Linked DNA regions of Homo sapiens: region 2 is linked to region 1. The links come from fine-mapping of genetic effects on gene expression. A gene starts in region 1. The other region holds a variant in brackets. All regions are shown on one strand. Distances are from middle to middle.

Region 1 (2,902 bases):
GTTATTGTTTTAGATCCAATAACTGTTTGGTTTTGTTTTTCAACATGGCATTGGTATATCTGGTTCCCCAACAGGACCTCGCATGTAGGACATCGGAGTGGGTTCACTCGGGAAGATGGACTTCCATTCTACCTGAGCTATGTTCCCACATGCGGTCACAATCCTGGCCCAACCGTGAAAGGCGGTCTGGCCGGAATAAACCTGACCAAAAAGATCAGTGAAATGTGTGGGACATCATAAAGTGCTGTGGGGGTAGGGGTGGAGGAAAGGAATGAGTAGAGAAAAAAGGAGCATGAATTTAAAATGGGAAAACCCTCTCATACTCCATTTGATTCATTTAAGGAGGGGAAAACCACTCAAGGACTCTCTCCAGAACCCAAAGCTAATCACTTTTTTATTGCAGCAGATTACCAAAGAGCCTAGGTAACCCACCTACCACGGCCTCCCGCCGAAAAACCAAAAATCCCATTTCTTCCCAAGTGTGCGCCCAGGAAAGGAAGGAAGACTGTGCATTTAGAGTGGAGGGCGGTACACAGGGCAAAGCAAGTTAGTGCCTCCTTCCCAGATCCCCTGCTTCCCGAGCCAGCCTGACCTGGCTAACCGCAAAGTGCAGGGAGAATGGCACAGGGACCGGGAGGTCAAACTTGGGGTCGCTTCTCACCCGAGTCCACCCGATAACGAGATGATGGGGCGGCGGGTGGGGACACCTGTCAAAGGACGGGGCCGGGGCCGGGGCCGGGGCCGCAGCGGGCGGGCTGGCTGGCGGCACTGCGGCGGCGGGGACCGAGGCGCGCCGGCTCGGGCGTTCGCAGGTCGCGGGGCAGAGCCGGCACCGACTCCTGGACTTGCCGGGGAGCGTGCGCCCGCGGAGGGCTCGGGCGGGCGGCCCCGCGCCCGGGACGCTATGGGAGGGGGCCGCAGCCGAGCAGGGCCCCGCAGCCGGGCGGACCCAGCCGCCCCAGCCGCGCTGCAGCCCCCGCCGTCCCCGGTCTCCGCCTGCGGGCTGCGCACGGGGCCGGGCCGGACGCCCCCTGGCTGCGCGACGGGCCCAGGCAGGGGAGGGGGCGCCGCGCCTACCTGCTCTGGTGCGGCGGGGCCGCTGTCGCCTCGAGGGGCTGTGACCTGCTGCGGTGGCGGCGGCGGCAGCAGTAGCGGCGGGTAGGGCGCTTCCTTCAGGAAGGGGTGGGATCTGCTCACCCGCCCGCCCGGCCCCCTCCTGCCGCGCCGGGGCCCGCCCCCGACTTATTCTGGGGTCCCCGCTGCTAGGCCTTCGGGGAGAGTTGATCCCCTGGGTCTCGGGCTTCTGCCACCCCCCCGGGGCCCCTAATAGTCACCCGGGGCAGGAGCCGGGTGTGGGCGGGCGAGCCGCTTCCTTCCGAAGCCTTTGTGGACGCGTTTGCCTGGCGCTCCTCATCCAACAAAAGGAAGGACAGAATCTTGGATCCTCCGCCTGGTGGTTATTTATTCCTGACCTGTTGTAACCTTCTGCCTGGCTCTCTTTCGTCCGCACACCTAGGGTTTTTGCACAAAGCAGCTAAAATTCATTTTCATGCCCATTGACTGAATGTAGTTCTCCTCCACTCAGCGCTGTCCCGCGGTTTTTGGTTTTTTTTTTTCCATCCTATTGAACAAACACAGAGCCAACTTCGGACCCTGGCAATGAACAGCAGACACCAAGGCCGACCTCCCAGCGCCAGCTTGCAGCTTTCCTCCCTGGGTCTCGTCTGAGTCCGTCATAAACTGTGTTCATCAGCGTTTTGACAGCTTCCCCCATCCCGGACCCCCAACCTACCATGGGACCCCATGGCACCATGTCAGTGACCTCTAGCAGCAGCATGGATCAATGCCATTTTTATCTTAGGCTCATCATGAGCCTGGGTTCCAAACACAACCTCTCTGGCCTCCAACAGGTGGCTCTCTATCAACCGGCCTTTGTCAGTCTGCCCTCTATTCTTTTGGGGGCTTCCGTAGCACACCTGTCTCCTTTAAACTGCTGTCTCTACACAAGCAGGCATTCCCTTTTTTTCTTTTTCTTTTTCTTTTTCTTTTTCTTTTCTTTTCTTTTCTTTCTTTTTTTTTTTTTTTTTGAGACGGAGTCTTGCTCTGTCGCTCAGGCTGGAGTGCAGTGCCGCAATGTCGGCTCACTGTAACCTCTGCCTCTCGGGTTCAAGCGATTCTCTCGCCTCAGCCTCCTGAGTAGCTGGGATTACAGGCGCCCGCCACCATGCCCGATTAATTTTTGTATTTTCAGTAGAGGCGGGGTTTCACCACGTTGGCCAGGCTGGTCTCAAAACTCCTGGCCTCAAGTGATCCGCCTGCCTCAGCCTCCCAAACTGCTGGGATTACAGGCGTGAACCACCGCGCCCGGCCCAACCAGGTGTTTCTAAGAATCTTCTCCAATTCAGCATATTCAAATTCTGCAATTAACGTTCGGTTCCAGAACTCTCCCTTCCCCACAATTCTTGTGATTATTGTCTACTATGTGTATATTGATTCTTTTTTTTTTTCTGTATGTTGATTTCTTGTTACTGTTTTCTCCTGGCTACTAGACTGTAAGCTTCCTGAGACCAGGGATCTTGCCTTCTCTTGTTTTCCTTATTTTAATGAGTGGGACTGTTATCCATTCAATTAAAATAGCAAAAGCAAAAACTGAATCTTAGTCTAGACTCCCTTGAAAGTATATGCTCAATTTTGTGGGAATTAGCTTATGTGTACTTTTCTGAGGAGAGTAACTACACATTAATCAGACCCTCAAAGTGGTCTGACTCCCCCAAAGGTAAGATTGCTTGAGGCCCATCCATGAACCCCTCCTCTCTCTACTCCCTGTCCCCATGCCATTCATTTCTCTCTGCAATAACGGAAAGAGTCCTCTAGCTAGATCTTCCAATTCATTCTTTCAGAA
Region 2 (2,902 bases), 64 kb after region 1:
TGCTAGAAATGAAAGTGCCCTTTAGTTCCGAGGAGGAAATAGAAGGCACTCAGTCAGCTCTGATCAAGCCATTCTTGGATTCATGGGCAGCAATTGCAGGGCCAGGAAGGAGCTGAAGTGAATCTTCCTTATCCCTCTGCCTCGGGTGTCAGAACCTGTTTACTGGAACTGGAAGATATTGCCTACATTGCCTGAGACAGGCCTTCCCTCCTCTTGCTTCTGATGTTGCAGAGTAGAAGTCAGGAACTTTTCAGAGAAGGAAACTGAATCCAGAAAGGCTGATGTTTCTCAAGGCCACAGAGCTGGCCGGTAGCAGAGCTGGGGACTTGAGGTGAACTTGAGTTGGCTCCACTGTCCCAGGCTGGCTCCATGAGTCTGCCATGACGCCTGTGGGACACATGCTGTCTTTGAGACATTGGAGATCCCAGTTAGCTTAGTTCATCTCCACCAATGCTCACATCATGTACTTTATAGGGAGCTCCCCCGACCCCACGCAGCAGCTTGGCCACACAGCTCAGAATAAGAACGCACCCTTACACACAGCTCCTGTGTTTTGCGATACATGTGCTGTGAGCACAGGCTTATGTGAAATCTGGTCATAAAACTACAAACACACCCTTGCTGTGGTGGGCCCAGTCATTTTGTCCACCCACAGCACAGGGGTTGCCAGCTCTGTCTCACAGTTGGTACCTCTAGAAGAAAGCAACTTCTGAGACTTCTGGCCGGGCATGGTGGTTCACACCTGTAATCCCAACATTTTGGGAGGCCAAGGCGGGCGGATCACCTGAGGTCAGGAGTTTTGAGACCAGCCTGGCCAACGTGGTGAAGCCCCATCTCTACCCCCAACAACAACAACAGAAATCCGGGCATCGTGGCATGCACCTGTAGTCCCAGCTACTGGGGAGGCTGAGGTGGGAGGATTGCTTGAACCCAGGAGGTGGAGGTTGCAGTGAGGGGAGGTTGCAATGAGCTGAGATTGCGCCACTGCACTCCAGCCTGGGTGACAGAGTGAGACCTTGTAAGAAAGAAAAAGAGAGAGAGAGAGGAAAGAAAGAAAGAAAGAAAGAAAGAGAAAGCAAGCAAGCAAGCAACTTCTGAGATTCAATGGTAACATTGAGAGTTGCCTCATAGAGGATTGAGAACAAGTGGGGAGGAGGGCAGCTATTAGTAGATCCCTAGTTGTGAGGGATTCAGATGGCTGGTTGAAGGTAATGCCATCTTTTTTCCATAGTAAACCTAGGCCAGCAGCTGTAAGGAAGGGTACTCTTTTGCAGGGCAAAGTCTTCACAGCCCCAGCTAGCCCAGGCTGCTGTTAGCTGATATTTTCCTTTTGGATCCTGTGAAGCAGTTACAGGCAGGATGTGGCTGACTGTTCTTCCAGATGGGGAGTCGTGGCACCACGGGGTCGGGGGGTGAATGGAGAGGGAAAGAAGGCTGTGTCGGAGCCCACAGAAGCTGCTGGGACAGCCGGGCTTGTTGCCCTGAGACAGGCCTTCCCTCCTCCTGCTTCTGATGTTGCAAATGTAGAAGTCAGGAACATCCTTGGGGTGGGATGGGGGCTTCGGACTCTACAGTCCACAGGGAAGTAGCAGAGGGAACAAGGAAAGGAGTTTCCAGTTCATTTATAGCACATCCTTGAC[G/A]TAGAGGAAGGGGAAGGAGTTTGATTAACACCCTAAGCTAAAAATGGGAATTTTTTTTTTTGAGACAGAGTCTCACTCTGTTGCCCAGGCTGGAGTGCAGTGGTGCAATCCGGCTCACTGCAAGCTCCGCCTTCTGGGTTCAAGCAATTCTCCTGCCTCAGCCTCCAGAGTAGCTGGGACTACAGGCATCTGCCACCATGCCCGGCTAGTTTTTTGTATTTTTAGTAGAGATGGGGTTTCACTGTTACCCAGGATGGTCTCGATCTCCTGACCTCGTGATCTGCCCGCCTCGGCCTCCCAAAGTGCTGGGATTACAGATGTGAGCCACCACACCTGGCCAAAAATGGGAAAATTTTTTAAGAAAGGATTATAAAGGTTAGGAGATTTCTTTCAGCCACTGAGAACACAACTGGTTTTCAGTCCCCTTTGTAATTGGGGACAGGAGTGAAATGGACAAATGAACCTCACAGATAATCCCCAATGCTTACTCTCATCCATGAGTTTCAACCTCTCCCCTCCACAAATCTATTCCAGGTCCTGATGAGCTGACTGAAGCATAGGGACATTGCAGGCCAGACCTGTCCTTTGACACAGGTGCGAGGCACAGTAAGGAGGCCAGGGGTGCAGAGGGCCACGCGGAGGCCTGGAACTGATGGAGGCACACGGTTGCAAAGACTCCCCAGAACGGCAGAGCTGGACAGGTTAACCCAATCCAGTTGGTCCTTTATGGAAAGTGAAACCAAAGTTCCCAGAGGTTAGAGCCATCTGGTTAGTTAGCAAAACCAGGCCCAGAAGCTGGCTCACTTCTGGTCTATGGCTCTCTGCACCATATCCCAGTCTCTGGCTTGTGTGTGGGGCATGCTACTCACCCTCAACTGATGTCTCCCAGGGCTCTGCAATGCCCCAGGCACTGGGATGAGGCTTCCAGATTCATCTAATACACATAAATGTTGCTCTTCCTGTCGTGTAGACAAGGACACTGAGGCTCAGAGAGGCTCCGCAGGCTAGTAAATGACAATTTCATATGTCATATTTCAGCCTTAACCTGAGTCCCAGGTAACACAGCCAGTCAGATCAAGAGTTAGAGTTCAAATCCAGGTCTCAGGACTCCAAGTCCAGTGCTATTTCTACTACCCCATTAAGCTGTAGAGCTTTCTGTAATAATTTCTCTCATTAAATTGTTTTTCATGATGGGTTATATTTAATTGCTTTATTGCATTTTAGGAATGCACAAAATATATGCAGATTTTTTAAAACCAAGA

Direction of the effects. Positions count from the first base shown, and alleles are read on the strand shown. Sizes are in standard deviations (SD) of each study's normalised expression.
For the expression in thyroid of the gene that starts at base 1,160 in region 1, G is the high allele of the variant in region 2 and A is the other (moderate effect, 0.53 SD a copy in GTEx).

The links.
Region 2: its variant is fine-mapped to the expression of TMEM150C in thyroid (GTEx, PIP 0.98).

Annotation. Positions count from the first base shown.
Region 1 is chr4:82,560,829-82,563,730 of GRCh38, forward strand. It overlaps TMEM150C (transmembrane protein 150C), which reads right to left and starts at 1,160. Exons shown (of 8, transcript NM_001080506.3): 1 at 1,078-1,160. RefSeq lists an enhancer at 886-1,385.
Region 2 is chr4:82,625,069-82,627,970 of GRCh38, forward strand. No RefSeq gene overlaps it. Among named protein-coding and RNA genes, the nearest start is that of LINC00575, 5.1 kb to the left of the region's middle. The variant G/A (reference allele first, on the strand shown) is at 1,641.